Linked DNA regions of Homo sapiens. The protein of the gene in region 2 purifies or fractionates together with the protein of the main gene of each other region. This does not show direct contact. Each region holds a gene or a part of one and is shown on either strand. Other genes may lie near its edges.

Region 1 (7,388 bases), on a different chromosome or scaffold from region 2:
GGCTAGAGGGAGACATCAGGTGGCTGACTGGGCAGTGTGGAGATCACCCATCCCCCTGAAATTTACCTGGGCCCTAGAGCCAACTGACTCTGCCTCTGTGGGAGGGTCTGACCCTGTGGCCAAGGGGTTACAGGTGACAGAGGTCTTCTGGATAGGGGACAGGGAGGCAGGGCTGCGATGCCCACAGGGATGCTGCATACTCACTCCTCCTTCCACTTCCAGACTTCCTGTAGAAAGGCCTCGCGGCCCAGCTGGTGCCGGCTCAGTCCCTGCTCACGCCATAGCTTCTTCTCCACCACCACCTGGGTGGCAATACCTGCATGGTCACAGCCAGGGTTCCACAGGGTGGTCTCCCCACGCATGCGGTGCCTGTTAGGGGGCATGGAGGACCAGAGGGTGAGCCAGGCCAGTGGGGCCTGGCACCAAAGAAAGCAGAGGCTTCAGGCAAGGAGTCAGTGGACTAAATAAAGAAGCAGGGAGGCCGGACGCGGTGGCTCACGCCTGTAATCCCAGAACTTTGGGAGGCTGAGGTGGGTGGATCACCTCAGGTGGGGGAGTTCGAGATGAGCCTGGCCAACATGGTAAAACCCCGTCTCTACTAAAAATACAAAATTAGCTGGGCATGGTGGCATGCGCCTGTAATCCCAGCACTTTGGGAAGCCGAGGTGGGTGGATCACCTGAGGTGGGGACTTCAAGATAAGCCTGGCCAATATGGTAAAACCCTGTCTGTATTAAAAATACAAAATTAGCTGGGCGTGGTGGCATGTGCCTGTAATCCCAGCTACTTGGAAGGCTGAGGCAGGAGAATTGCTTGAACCCGGGAAGCAGAGGTTGCAGCAAGCTGGGATCATGCCATTGCACTCCAGCCTGGGTGACAGAGTGAGACTCCGTCTCCAAAAAACAAACAAAAAAAAAAAGAAAGAAGCAGGGGTGGAGCTGGAACCCTTGTGATTCTAAAGCTAGTCAAGGAGAAAAGATTTGAAGGAAGAGCCAAGGCAATATGGAAAAAGAACAAAGACAGGCATGCGTGGTGGCTCACACCTGTAACCCCAGGACTTTGGGAGGCCAAGGCGAGTGGATCACTTGAGGACAGGAGTTCGAGACCAGCCTGACCAACATGGCAAGACCCTGTCTCTACCAAAAATATAAAAATTAGCCAGGATGGTGGTGCATACCTGTAATCCCAGCTACTTGGGAGGCTGAAGCACGAGAATCGCTTGAAGCTGGGAGGGGGAGGTTGCAGTGAGTTGAAATTGTGCCACTGCACTCCAGCCCGGATGACAGAGTGAGACTCTGTCTCAAAAAAAAAAAAAAAAAAAAAAAAAAAGAACGAAGAGGAGGCTCCTGCCAAACAGGATAGCAAAAGTTCTAATTGTTAAAATAAGTTACTAAACAGGAACAAAATAGTACCTGGAAACAGATACAAGCAAATTTAGTGTTTGTGAAAGTTGGCACTTCCTATCAGTAAAATAAGGATAAACTATTCAAAATGTTTGAAACAACTAGCTAATTATTTGGAAAAAATCTCCCCCTTACCAATAGTCACAAAAAGAAACTTTAGATAGATTAAAGAATTCAAGCCAGGCACAGTGGCTCAAGCCTATAACCCCAACACTTTGGGAGGCCAAGGTGAGAGGACTGCTTGAGCCCAGGAGTTGCAGACTAGCCTGGGCAACATAGTGAGACCTAGTCTCTGCAAAAAAAAAAAAAAAAAAGCCAGGCATGGTGGCGTGCACCTTTGTTCCCAGCTACTTGGGTGGCTGAGGTTGAGGCTGCACCAAGCTATGATTGTGCTGTGATCATGCCGATGCACTCCAATCTGGCCAACACAGTGAGAGAGACTCTGTCTCAAAAATAAATAAATAAACAAATAAATAAAAATAAAAAGTTGATATAACTCTATTCCATTAAAGTAATGGGAGTGTCTCACATTTTATTTAAACCACGTTCACTGGAAAAAAAATGTGGCTACCTTAAGAGTTTTATAAGAAGTATGTGGCCAGGCACAGTGGCTCACACCTGTAATCCCAGCACTTTGGGAGGCCGAGGCAGGCGGCTTACTTCAGGTTAGGAGTTCAAGACCAGCTTGGCCAACATGGCAAAACTCTGTCTACTAAAAATGCAAAAGAATTAGCTGGGCGTGGTGGTGCGTGCCTGTAGTCCCAGCTACTCAGGAGACTGAGACACAAGAATCGCTTGAACCCAAGTGGTTGAGGTTGCAGTGAGACGAGATCGCGTCACTGCACTCCAGCCTGGGCGACAGAGCGAGACTCTGTCTCAATTAAAAAAAAAAAAGTAGTCATTCTGTTTTCATGTAAACAAACTTGGAGGCCAGGTATGGTGGTTCATGCCTGTAGTCCCAGCACTTTGGGAGACTGAGGCAGGAGGATTGCTTGAGCCCAGAAGTTCAAGACCAGCCTGGGCAACATAGCGAGACCCTCTCTTGATTTTATTAAAAAATTGAAAAACAGGGCCGGGCGTGGTGGCTCACGCCTATAATCCCAGCACTTTGGGACGCCGAGGTACGCGAATCACGAGGTCAGGAGATCGAGACCATCTTGGCTAACACGGTGAAACCCCGTCTCTACTAAAAATACAAAAAAAATTAGCCAGGCGTGGTGGTGGGCTCCTATAGTCCCAGCTACTCAGGAGGCTGAGGCAGGAGAATGGTGTGAACCTGGGAGGAGGAGCTTGCAGTGAGCAGAGACTGCGCCACTGCACTCCAGCCTGGGTGACAGAGCAAGACCCCATTTCCAAAGAAAAAAAAAAAATTGAAAAATTGAAAAAACAAAAACGCAAACACAAACGCAAACAACTTGGCCATTGTATGTTATGTGTATTTAACAGAACTGTTGGCTGGACGAAGTGGCTCATGCCTGTCATCCTAGCACTTTGGGAGACCGAAGCGGGAGGATCACAAGGTCAGGAGCTCGAAACAAGCCTGACCAACATGGTGAAACCCCGTCTCTACTAAAAATACAAAAATTAGCCAGGTGTGGTGGCATGCGCCTGTAATCCCAGCTACTCAGAAGGCTGAGGCAGGAGAATCGCTTGAGCTCAGGAGGCAGAGGTTGCAGTAAGCGCGCATCACTGCACTCCAGCCTGGGAAACCGAGAGAGACTCTGTCTCAAAAAAACAAAAAAAACAAAAAAAAAAACAGGCCAGGCGCGGTGGGTCACGCCTGTAATCCCAGCACTTTGGGAGGCCGAGGTGAGCAGATCATGAGGTCAAGAGATCGAGACCATCCTGGCCGACAGGGTGAAACCCTGTCTCTACTAAAAAAAATACAAAAAATTAGCCAGGCGTGGTGGCGGGCGCCTGTAGTCCCAGCTACTCAGGAGGCTGAGGCAGGAGTATGCTGTGAACCTGGGAAGCAGAGCTTGCAGTGAGCCAAGATTGCGCCACCGCACTCCAGCCTGGGCGACAGAGAGAGACTCTGTCTCAAAATAATAATAATAATAATAAAAATAAAAAAATAAAACATATAACTGTTTTCCTAGCTCTCAGTTACTTGCAAAATGCACAATCAAACATTATATTCCCAGTGCTCAGAGCAGAGGTGGCACATAGTTGGGCCCAGTAAATATTTTTTGACCACATTAATTTAGTACATAAGACACCAGAAAAAATTCTCAAAATTTAAATATAATAAACCCTGGTTTCCAAAAATGGTAAAGTTATTTTAAAATACTTTTTAAAAAGATTTGTCACCTAGAATATTACTTTGTATTTATCACTAATTAAAATATTAACAGTGAAAACAAATAGTAACAGAAAACAGGAGAAACATTTACAATTAACAGGAAAACTACCACACAATAATACAACAAAAACATTTACAATATTTAACAAAAAAATTGATACCCAGAACAGGTAAAGAATTCTCAAAAAAAAAATTAAAAAGAAAAAGAACGAAGAATCAATAGAAAAACGGGGAAAAGATAGATACAGACAATTCACATATGGGTAAACCTGACTGGCCAAAAAACATGAAAATAGGCACAACTTCAATAGCAATCAGAAAGGTACAAAGTAAAACAACAGAGGTATTTTTTTGCCCATCAGATTGGCAAAACTAATTAGGCAACCCTAATGCTCAGGCTTAGCAAGGGTGGGGAAATGAACACTCTCACAGCAATTCCTGGAGGTATCAATCAGCAAAGCCATTCTGCAGGGCAACTTGGCAGCTTCCGTTTGTACTTAATATAGGTGTGCCCCTGCCGACCTAGCAGTTTCACTTCTTGATAGCTACACCAGCGAAACCCTTCCACACATGCTTCAGCAAGCATATAGAGCAGGGGTATCCAATCTTTTGGCTTCCCTGGGCCACATGGAAGAATTGTCTTGGGCCACAGATAAAATACACTAACACTGGCTGGGAGCAGTGGCTCACGCCTGTAATCCCAGCACTTTGGGAGTCCGAGGCGGGCGGATCACGAGGTCAGGAGATCGAGACCATCCTGGCTAACATGGTGAAACCCCGTCTCTACTAAAAATACAAAAAAAAAATTAGCCGGGCGTGGTGGTGGGCACCTGTAGTCCTAGCTACTTGGGAGGCTGAGGCAGGAGAATGGCGTTAACGTGGGAGGCGGAGTTTGGAGCTTGCAGTGAGCCGAGACTGTGCCACTGCACTCCAGCCTGGGTGACAGTGCAAGACCCGTCTCAAAAAATAAATAAATAAATAAATAATAAAAATAAATTTAAAAAAATACACTAACACTAACGATAGCTGATGAGCTAAAAAAAAAAAATCGCAAAAAAATTCTTAAATGTTTAAACAAAGTTTACAAATTTGTGTTAGGCTGCATTCAAAGCCGTCCTGGGCCGCATGTGGCCCACAGGCTGCAGGTTGGACAAACTTGATATACAGGGATGTGCATTAGAGTAAGGTTTTCAACAGAAAAAAAACAAAAAACAAAAAACAGAATGAATCATTAATTAAAAAGTGACTCCAGGCCGGGAGCAGTGGCTCACGCCTGTAATCCCAGCACTTTGGGAGGCCGAGGCAGGCAGATCACCTGAGGTCAGGAGTTTGAGACCAGCCTGGCCAACATGGTGAAACCCCATCTCTACTAAAAATACAAAAATTAGCCAGGCGCGGTGGCAGGTGCCTGTAATGCCAGCTACTTGGGAGGCTGAGGCAAGAGAATCGCTTGAACCTAGGAGGTGGAGGTTGCGGTGAGCCGAGATCATGCCACTGTACTCCAGCCTGAGCAAAAAGAGTGAAACTCTGTCTCAAAAAAAAAAAAAAAAAAAAAAAAAAAAAGAATGACTTCACTATGGTACAGCCACACTATGAGATATTATGGAACAATTAAAAAGAAGGAAGTCAGTATGTGTGGTATGTGTGTAAGGACAAGGAAAGATCTCCAAGAGAAAGTATTAAGTGTAAGAAGAAAGCTAGATCATAACAAGTGTAATATGAACCCTTTATGTTAAAAAATAGAAAAGACTCACCCAAAAGGAGAACTATAAATTTCTATGGGTACGTGTATATGTAAGTAAATAGGAAAGATCTGGGAAGATACACATCAAAGTGATAACAATGGCTAAATCTTAGGAGGAAGTAGGTGTGGAGGGGGATGGTCAAGGAGATTTGAAACTTTAAATTTCTTACAAGAATATATTCATATATTTTGGTCAGTTGTGGTGGCGCATTCCTGTAATCCCAGCTACTTGGGAGGCTGAGGCAGGAGAATCACTTGAACCCAGGAGGCAGCGGTTGCCATGAGCCGAGATGGCGTCACTGCACTCCGGCCTGGGCAACAGAACAAGACTCTGTCCCCCCAAAAAAAAATATATATATTCATATGTTCCTAATTAAATTCAAAATAATGTTATTGTTACTAGAAAAAGAAGGGAGAGACTGGGTGTGGTGCCTCACACCTATAATCCCAGCACTCTGGGAGTCTGAGACAGGAGAATCACTTGAGCCAGGAGTTGGAGACCAGACTGAGCAACAAAGTGAAAACTCATCTTTACAAAAAATTAAATTAAATTAAATTAAAATTAAATAAAGAAAGAAGGGATAGAAGAGAGTCTGCAAGTGGCGGTGTTGCATGGGAGTACTGGACTAGGAGAGGAAGCTAAATGATCAGATTGGAATGACAGAGAGAAGTGTAGCACCACTGGGGGCAGAAGTGAGCACCAACCCAGAAGGAGAGAGGCTCGGGGGGCTGTCAGGGAAAAGGAGAGAGCCAGACTAGGCAGAGGGAACCAGAGGAAGGTGCAGATAGAAGCTCACCATCGAGTCAGGGAGTCCTGGATGGCGTTGGTGAGTGCATGGCCCAGGTGCAGGGAGCCTGTCACATTGGGGGGTGGGATGCACATCATGAAGACACCTCGGGGATTTGCTGCTGACACATTAGGACGCTGATGGTGGAGAAGGATGGCACATGTTTAAGGCCTCAGGTCACCTCTCCCAGCCCCTCCCAGGCAACACATCCTTCAGTCCTGCCCTTCCCCACCCCACCCACTCTGGGCCTGGGCAGCAGTGCCTACTCACCCCATACTCTGGCTTGAAGAAGCCCTGCTGCTCCCACCAAGGGTACCAGGCAGCCTCCACATACCGAGGGCTGTAGGAGTCGGGCATGGGGCCACTGACATCTGGGGGAGAGGAAGGGAGGGCTCAGTGCCGTGGCTGGGAGCACTCTGGGAAGGAGACGTGCTGGCAGAGAGGGATCGGGATCTCCGTCACTCACATCATAGGACAGGCATTTGAGGGGCCTAGAGGCAGGGCAGGGGGTCTGCAATTCCTCACCAAACAAAGTGGTGAGAGCAAGAATAGAGCAAGATAGGGTGAAAACTTAGAAGGGGCTGCTGAGGGGTGAGCCCCTTCCCACTCCTAGTACCTTTCTTTTCCCCGGGTGGGGTTGGGAGGTCATAGGTAATGACCCCAGGATCCCGTTTCTCCCTCTTCTCTGGTTTTGGTTTCTTCTGCTTGGGAGGGAGAAGACATAGGCCCAGGCATCAGCCAACCCATCACCGCACACATCAACTTTCCTTCCAGCTCCACCCTCGCCTCACCTCCCCTGGAGGTGGCTGCTGCTGTTGGATCTTCTGCTTCTGTTGGAATTTCTCTAGCTTCTCCCGTTTCTTTGCCTCTTTCTTGAGCTGAGCAGCTGTCTTTGGGAGGGCAGGAGCCTCGGGGCCTAGAGAGAGGTGCAGAAATTCAGACTCAGCCAGCTGGGGACCCTCTTGGACGGCCATACTAGGTTTCAGATGGGGTATTTTAGATGCCCGAGGTCTTGCCCATGCTGACCTCCCCCCTCTCCCTCCTCTCCCGCAGGACCCTGCCCCAGTGATTCTGCCATTTCTAGGAAAAAAAGAAAGTGAGTTGCATGGAAGGCCCCAGGGAAGCCCCTATCCTCCAACTCCTCGCCCTTCC
Region 2 (7,776 bases):
TATTTATCTGACAGCCCCAAACACGGTGGTATTATTGGCCTCTGGTTGAGGAAGGGATCTGGGGGCGTCCGCAGCTTCAGATAAAGGGGAGCCCTCGCCCGGGAGGGGTTTATCCCATCTGGCGGCTTCGCTCGTAGAGCGAGCGACTCCCAGGCCCTTGCGCCACCTGCTGGTGGACCTGCGTAGCCGCGCCCATTTCGGAGCAGGTGCGGAGGCCGGCCCTGGGGGGCAGGGTCTGGGTGTGGGGTCCCGACGGAGGGGGCCGGCGTCCCAGGACCCCGACGGAGAGCAAGGGGGTGCTGGAGCCCATCTCCCGCCTCTCGCGGCCACTCTGCTGTAACAAGCAGCTCGCACCACCAGGGACTCCTGGGTCCCGGGTCCCGCCCTCAGCCGTGACCCTCACCCGCTCCAGATGGGGAAGGGATCCTTCAAGTATGCCTGGGTGCTGGACAAGCTGAAGGCGGAGCGTGAGCGCGGCATCACCATCGACATCTCCCTCTGGAAGTTCGAGACCACCAAGTACTACATCACCATCATCGATGCCCCCGGCCACCGCGACTTCATCAAGAACATGATCACGGGTACATCCCAGGTGAGCAGGGCACAGCAGGCGGGGCTGGGGGAGAGGCCGCTGCACCCTTCAAGGGACACTGGGGGCCCCTGGGGTCACTGGGATGGTAGGGTCTCCTGTGCTTCCTGTGAGGGCAGGGGACCCCTCACCTGGGCCACCCTCACCCAGTCTGGCTCAGAGCCCCCCTAAGGATGAATCCAGTGCTCTGGCATCTGAACCAGTGCCTGTGAAGGCATCCAGCCAGTGTCAGAGTCCCCAGATAGATGGGGGCAGATGGGGACGTGGACACACCTTCATACATGGAGGGGTTGGAGGCCAGGATGGGGAGAGTGAGCAGTGGGCAGAGGTGCCACCCGCCAGGTGTAGACTGTATGACATTTCAGGGCACTCACAGAGACGCACGGACACCCCAGACACAGCACCCTGCAGACAGCAGGACACATGCCACCACCTCCAAACTGCTTTGATAACTGTGACTTCTATCCGTCCTCAAGTGAGGAACAGGAGCAGATAGGCTGAGTGACTTGTCCAGGGACACACAGCCCACTGGTGGTGGAGCCAGGGCTGAACCTCGGTCCCCTGACCCAGGGCCTGGCGATGAGCCCCCATGCTGCCCTTGAAGTGGGGACCCCCATGCCTCCCTCCCCAAGGCCCCAGTGGGCTGCTCAGGCCCCAGCCCGCTGCCTGGAGAGGCCTGGAAGTGAGGTGGGGCCAGGCTCGCTCTGTCCCCTGCCAGGCAGGCGGGGCAGGGCTCACTGTGTCCCCTGCCGGGCAGGCGGACTGCGCAGTGCTGATCGTGGCGGCGGGCGTGGGCGAGTTCGAGGCGGGCATCTCCAAGAATGGGCAGACGCGGGAGCATGCCCTGCTGGCCTACACGCTGGGTGTGAAGCAGCTCATCGTGGGCGTGAACAAAATGGACTCCACAGAGCCGGCCTACAGCGAGAAGCGCTACGACGAGATCGTCAAGGAAGTCAGCGCCTACATCAAGAAGATCGGCTACAACCCGGCCACCGTGCCCTTTGTGCCCATCTCCGGCTGGCACGGTGACAACATGCTGGAGCCCTCCCCCAACGTGAGTGGCGGCTAGGGCGGGGCGGGCCACGGGAGCTGGCTGGACCCCCTGGCCCAGAGCGAGGCACCGGCAGGTGGCACGGGGAGGTCGAGGGCCTGTCCCCGGGAAATGCAGGTTCCCCTCGAAACCTGCTGGGTTTCCCTAACTGGCTCAGGGCCCGGCGGGGAGCCCCATGCCCCTCAGCACCGGGCTTTGCTCCTACACTCAGCCTCCCACGCGGCTGGCCGGGGCCAGGGCCCATCTACGATGTCAACACAGCAGGGGCAGCGGCCTCCAGCACCAGGCCCATGTGCTTGGTCTCCAGAGCCCTGCCATGGGGGCGGTCGGTTTCATCTCTGCCAGGCCATTGTCCTGGTCCTGGACACCGTGCAGGGGCTTTGGGCTGGGCCGTGGGGGCCTCCTTGGCTGCCTCCCCTGGGATCTTGGAGCAGGGTTGGGCTTTGGGAAGTGTGCATGCTTCTGGGCTTGCTGGGATGGCCAAGGGTTGGCTCTTGGCCGGTCACCTGGGAGCTCAACGTGCGAACAGTCTGTAGCCCAGGGACTCTGCCTTGGCTGGAGGTGACGCGTGGAGACACTTGCAGAACCTGAGACTGTTCCCAGGGTTCTCCAAGCCAGAGGAGACCCCAGAATGGCCACCACTAGGCTCTGCCAGCACTGTCGCTGCCCACAGTGAGGGTGCAGGTGTGGAGTCTAGAGACAGCAGGGAGACAGACCAGCAGCACTGAGCCTGGAGCTGAGGTCTGGGGACAGAACTGGGAGGGACTCCCCCAGCTCCGCCTCCATCTCACGAGGCTCGGTGTTGTTTACCTGTGATGGCGTTTTCCTCATGGGGTATCATGTGGCGAACGCCACTCTCCCCTCCCCAGGGAGGCCTCCAGCCATCAGGGACCCTGCACTCCCCTCTGGCCTGAGCTGCTAGGTGGCTCGTGCTTACACAGGCCCTGGGGGGCTGGGGCACTGTGCTGCCGGCCCCCTCCCCTGCTCCCTGTTTGTGGCAGGTGGCCCAGAGGGAGGCTTCATGGGATGGGAGTGGGGGCCACACTAGGAGAAGCTCCGGACAAGGCTGGGCCAAGCTCGGAGGCAGCACGGTGTCCAGAAGCTAGGGTGGGGCGAGGCTCCTCCAGCTCTGTCCCTGGCCTGGCCCTTGGCCAGACTCAGCATCCTCCTAGTCAAGTCATCTGCCCTGCCTGGAGCTGATGGTCAGGGGCCCGGGGTTTCGGGGACTTGGGGCTGGACTGGGGATTTGTTCACAGTGTCAGCAACTCCTGAGCAGCCTGGGCTGGGAAGGGTGCTTTCCCTCTTTGTCCTCCTCCTTTTAAGAGGGATCTCCTTCCCAGAGTCCCTGTGATGCTGGGGCTATGGGCTGGGGAGGAGCAGGGTGGGGAAATTCCTCATCTCAAAGGGCACGAGGCAAGTTTAGCCTGAACAGCAGTACTCCTGGAAGCACCCTGGGGAGGCCTGAGGGTGGGGAGGCCACCAATGTCTCTTAACGGATTGATTTTCTCCCTTTGGTCCAGATGCCGTGGTTCAAGGGCTGGAAGGTGGAGCGTAAGGAGGGCAACGCAAGCGGCGTGTCCCTGCTGGAGGCCCTGGACACCATCCTGCCCCCCACGCGCCCCACGGACAAGCCCCTGCGCCTGCCGCTGCAGGACGTGTACAAGATTGGCGGTGAGCAAGGGCGCTGTGCTGGAGCTCCTGCCTGGCCAGCTCTGCCTGCCCTAGACCAGGGGCCCCTACAAGGCATCTCAAGACTGGGCTGTCTCCAATCTCTCCCCTTACCACACACTTTCTGTGGGACAGTCCATCCCACATCCATCCATCCATCCACCCACCTCCCCACCCATCCATCCTCTGTCCATCCATCCACCCATCCATCTATCCACCTCTCCATCCATCTATCTATCCATCCATCCATCCATCGATCCATCCATCTCCCCACCCATCCATCCTTCACTCCATCCATCCATCCATCCATTGTCCCATCCATCCTTCTCTCTATCGAACCATCCCTCCATCTCTCCATCTATCCACCTCCCCACCCATCCATCCTTCTGTCCATCAATCCATCCATCCATCCATCCATCCACCTCTCCATCCATCCATCCATCTCCCCACCCATCCATCCTTCTCTCTATCCATCCATCCATCCATCCATCCATTGATTGTCCCACCCATCCATCCTTCTCTCTATCCCTCCATCCATCCATCCATGCATCCATCCATCCATTGTCCCACCCATCCATCCTTCTCTCTATCCATCCATCCATCCTTCCATCCATCCATCCACCTCCCCACCCATCCATCCTTCTGTCCATCCATCCATCCATCCATCTCTCCATCCATCCATCCATCCATCCATTGTCTCAACCATCCATCCTTCTCTCTATCCATCCATCCATCCATCCATCCATCTACCCACCCATCCATCCTTCTCTCTATCCATCCATCTATTGACCCACCCATCCATCCTTCTATCTATCCATCCATCCATTCATCCACTCACCCACCTACCCACCCATCCATCCTTCTGTACATCCATCCATCCATCCATCCACCCACCTACCTATCCATCCATCCTTCCATCCATCCATTTATCCATCCATCCATCCATCCATCTATCCACCCACCTACCCACCCATACATCCATCCATCCACCTCCCCATCCATCCACTTCCCCATCCATCCATCCATCCATCCATCTCCCCATCCACCCATCCACCTCTCTATCCATCCATCTCCCCACCCAGCCATCCTTCCCTCCATCATCCATCCATCCATCTCATCCATCCGTTCATCTCCTCATCCATCCATCCATCCATCCATCCATCCATCCATCCATCCATCCACCTCCCCATCCGTCCGTCCATCCATCCATCCATCCATCTATCCCCCCATCCATCCATCCATCCATCCATCCATCCATCCATCTATCCATCCACCTCCCCATCCATCCATTCATCCACCCACCTTCCTACCCATCCATCCTTCTGTCCATCCACTCATCTACCTCCTCATCCATCCATCCATCCATCCATCCACCAATCCATCCATCCATCTCCCTACTCATCCATCTCCCCACCCATCCTTCTGTCCATCCACCTCCCCATCCATCTACCACCCCATTCATACATCCATCCATCCATCCACCCACCTCCCCATCCATCCGTCCATCCATCCATCCATCCCACCAAGAAGAGAAACCATAAACAAATCTGAGACCCTAGAGAAGGGCACTGATAGGAGACCCCCAGCCAGTGGGCTGCAGCCAAAGATGTTGCAGGCATCTCTGTGTGCACTGTGGGGGCATCATGCTCACCCCAGCACAGAGCACAGCCACTGGCCTCAGTGAAGTTGGCTGGAGGCTACAACAGGCCTCCCTCACAGCCCTGGGAGGTGAGGGTGGAGACCCAGTAGCCTGGGGGGGGACAAGACCCCCATGTGGCAGCTGCACAATTGGTTTAAGTAGATCCATGAGAAATGCCAGGGACGCTCATGTGCCGCTGTGCCTGTGCTGCATCTGGCTGAGAGGCCCCTTTAGTGATAGAGACCTGCAGCATCCAAGTGGGGCCCAGAGAGCCTGCAGGGAGCAGGGAGCAGGGCCTGCAGGGAGCAGGGAGCAGGGCCACCAGGCCCCAGGCAGAAGCAGTCAGTCGCCCCGCCCACACTCACAGGGAGGAGTCCTCAGACAAAGGAGGGGTCCCATAGTGCCTCCTTTGAGGGAAAGTGCTCTCCGGGGGCAAGGATGGGACCCCAGGTTCAGACAGCCCCTCTCTGCCCATCCTCCCGCTTCTCTGTCCCTGTGGCTTTTCCGTGGGTTCCTGGGAGCTCTGCTGCTCAGCCTCTTATTTCCCCAGCTGGGTGGGAGAGCCCCCACTTCCCTTGGAATCTCTGTGTCTGCCCTTGTCCCTGGCCTCCCTTCCCCTGCACTCCGCCCATGTGGCCCCAACCCCCAGGCCTGTCGGGGGGATCCAGTCCCAGGCTTTGTTGGTTTCCAGGCTCTGTCCCCGAATATCCTGCCCCAGCATCCCCTCGGGCCCCACCTTCCCCTCACACCCCCTCCCCTCTGCAGGCATTGGCACGGTGCCCGTGGGCCGGGTGGAGACCGGCATCCTGCGGCCGGGCATGGTGGTGACCTTTGCGCCAGTGAACATCACCACTGAGGTGAAGTCAGTGGAGATGCACCACGAGGCTCTGAGCGAAGCTCTGCCCGGCGACAACGTCGGCTTCAATGTGAAGAACGTGTCGGTGAAGGACATCCGGCGGGGCAACGTGTGTGGGGACAGCAAGTCTGACCCGCCGCAGGAGGCTGCTCAGTTCACCTCCCAGGTGGGGGGCTGCGCTGGGTCCAGGGGGCTGGCGCCTGCTGGACAGCAGCAGGACTGTCCTGGGTGAGGCTGCTGTCGGCAGGTGGCCTGGCGTGGGGAGAAAACCAGACCCTCAGGCTGGGCGCAGTGGTTCACGCCTGTAATCCCAGCACTTTGAGAGGCCGAGGCGGGCAGATCACGAGGTCAAGAGATCAAGTCCATCCTGGTCAACATGGTGAAACCCCGTCTCTACTAAAAATACAAAAATTAGCCAGGCGTGGTGGCACGTGCCTGTAGTCCCAGCTATCAGGAAGCTGAGGCAGGAGAATCGCTTGAACCTGGGAGGCGGAGGTTGCAGTGAGCCGAGATTGCGCCACTGCACTCCAGCCTGCGTGACAGAGCGAGACTTCGTCTCAAAAGAAAAAAAAAAAAAGAAAAGGGACCCGCATACCACCGAGGGGGCCACCGAGCACTCAACGAGGGGATCAATCAGTTCTGGGAGGGGTGCAGGCCCTGTGGCTCCCAGCCTGTGTGCAATCGCGGGTCTGTCTTCCACGCTGCACTGCTGGGATGCCCAGCCTTTGAGGTCCTACATTCGTCCTAGAAAAACGCTTTTGTTAACTTACTGTCTGAGACATCTCTGTCATACTTTTATTCTCTACAGTCTTCATTGCCCCTCTTTGCTGGCCTCTTCATATGATTTATTTATTTTTTTTTTGAGACGGAGTCTCGCTCTGTTGCCCAGGCTGGAGTGCAGTGGTGCGATCTCGGCTCACTGCAACCTCCGCCTCCCGGGTTCAAGTGATTCTCCTGCCTCAGCCTCCCAAGTAGGTAAGATTACAGGCATGTGCCACCACGCCTGGCTAATTTTTGTATTATTAGTAGATACGGGGTTTCACCATGTTGGCCAGGCCGGTCTCGAACTCCTGACCTCAAGTGATCCACGTGCGTCAGCCTCCCAAAGTACTGGGATGACAGGTGTGAGCCACCGTGCCTGGCCTCTTCATATGATTTTTAAAAGTGGCTTTATTGAGATACAACTGAAACACAGGAATTGAGGTCCAGTTTTGTCACCCCCCCGCCTTAGTTCCAGCTGGGGTTGGCCGTGTAAGTGCTGCCCCTGCCCCTTCGAAACAATGAATCTCAGTTGTTTATCTTTTGCTTAATGAGGATGTTGAGGTTCAGGTCTGGGGGCTGGGTCCTCAGAGCCTGAGCCCCCTCCAGTCAGCACTCCGGGCCCAGGAGCCCGTGCAGGGGCGCCGGTGACTGGGCCTCCCAGCCCCGCTCTGGCGCCCTCCCGGTGCCCACCGCCGATGTGCCTGATGGCCGCCTGTGGCTCCGCTCGCAGGTCATCATCCTGAACCACCCGGGGCAGATTAGCGCCGGCTACTCCCCGGTCATCGACTGCCACACAGCCCACATCGCCTGCAAGTTTGCGGAGCTGAAGGAGAAGATTGACCGGCGCTCTGGCAAGAAGCTGGAGGACAACCCCAAGTCCCTGAAGTCTGGAGACGCGGCCATCGTGGAGATGGTGCCGGGAAAGCCCATGTGTGTGGAGAGCTTCTCCCAGTACCCGCCTCTCGGTGAGCCGGGGTGGTCCGGGGAGGTGCAGCCCCCAGGCTGTGGCTGATCCAGGCTGAGGGCAGAGGACTGCGGGGATGGGGCGCTGGGGACAGCAGTGGGCCCCCTTTCCTGCGGAGCTTGGCCCAGAGCATGGCAGGAGAGCCACGGCCTCCGTGTCACTGAGTGCAGGTGACCCTGCCCAGACGAGCTGGGGTGGGCCCTGTGTGCAGACGAGGCCCCGAAAGTGAGGGAGGCCCCGCGAGTGA

The links. The genes of interacting proteins can lie anywhere in the genome.
Region 1: the proteins of EEF1A2 (region 2) and VARS1 purify together in Homo sapiens (co-immunoprecipitation; 4 studies listed by BioGRID and IntAct, with this or other methods). This does not show direct contact.

What each region holds. Positions count from the first base shown.
Region 1 is NC_000006.12:31,785,365-31,792,752, forward strand, and holds part of VARS1 (valine--tRNA ligase), read right to left. Parts: intron 7,153-7,388; coding exon 7,028-7,152; intron 6,941-7,027; coding exon of another isoform or gene 6,938-6,940; coding exon 6,853-6,937; intron 6,608-6,852; coding exon 6,507-6,607; intron 6,374-6,506; coding exon 6,246-6,373; intron 370-6,245; coding exon 205-369; intron 1-204. UniProt on the Homo sapiens protein: Catalyzes the attachment of valine to tRNA(Val).
Region 2 is NC_000020.11:63,488,672-63,496,447, reverse strand, and holds part of EEF1A2 (elongation factor 1-alpha 2), read left to right. Parts: intron 1-412; coding exon 413-592; intron 593-1,346; coding exon 1,347-1,643; intron 1,644-3,160; coding exon 3,161-3,311; intron 3,312-5,712; coding exon 5,713-5,969; intron 5,970-7,295; coding exon 7,296-7,530; intron 7,531-7,776. UniProt on the Homo sapiens protein: Translation elongation factor that catalyzes the GTP-dependent binding of aminoacyl-tRNA (aa-tRNA) to the A-site of ribosomes during the elongation phase of protein synthesis.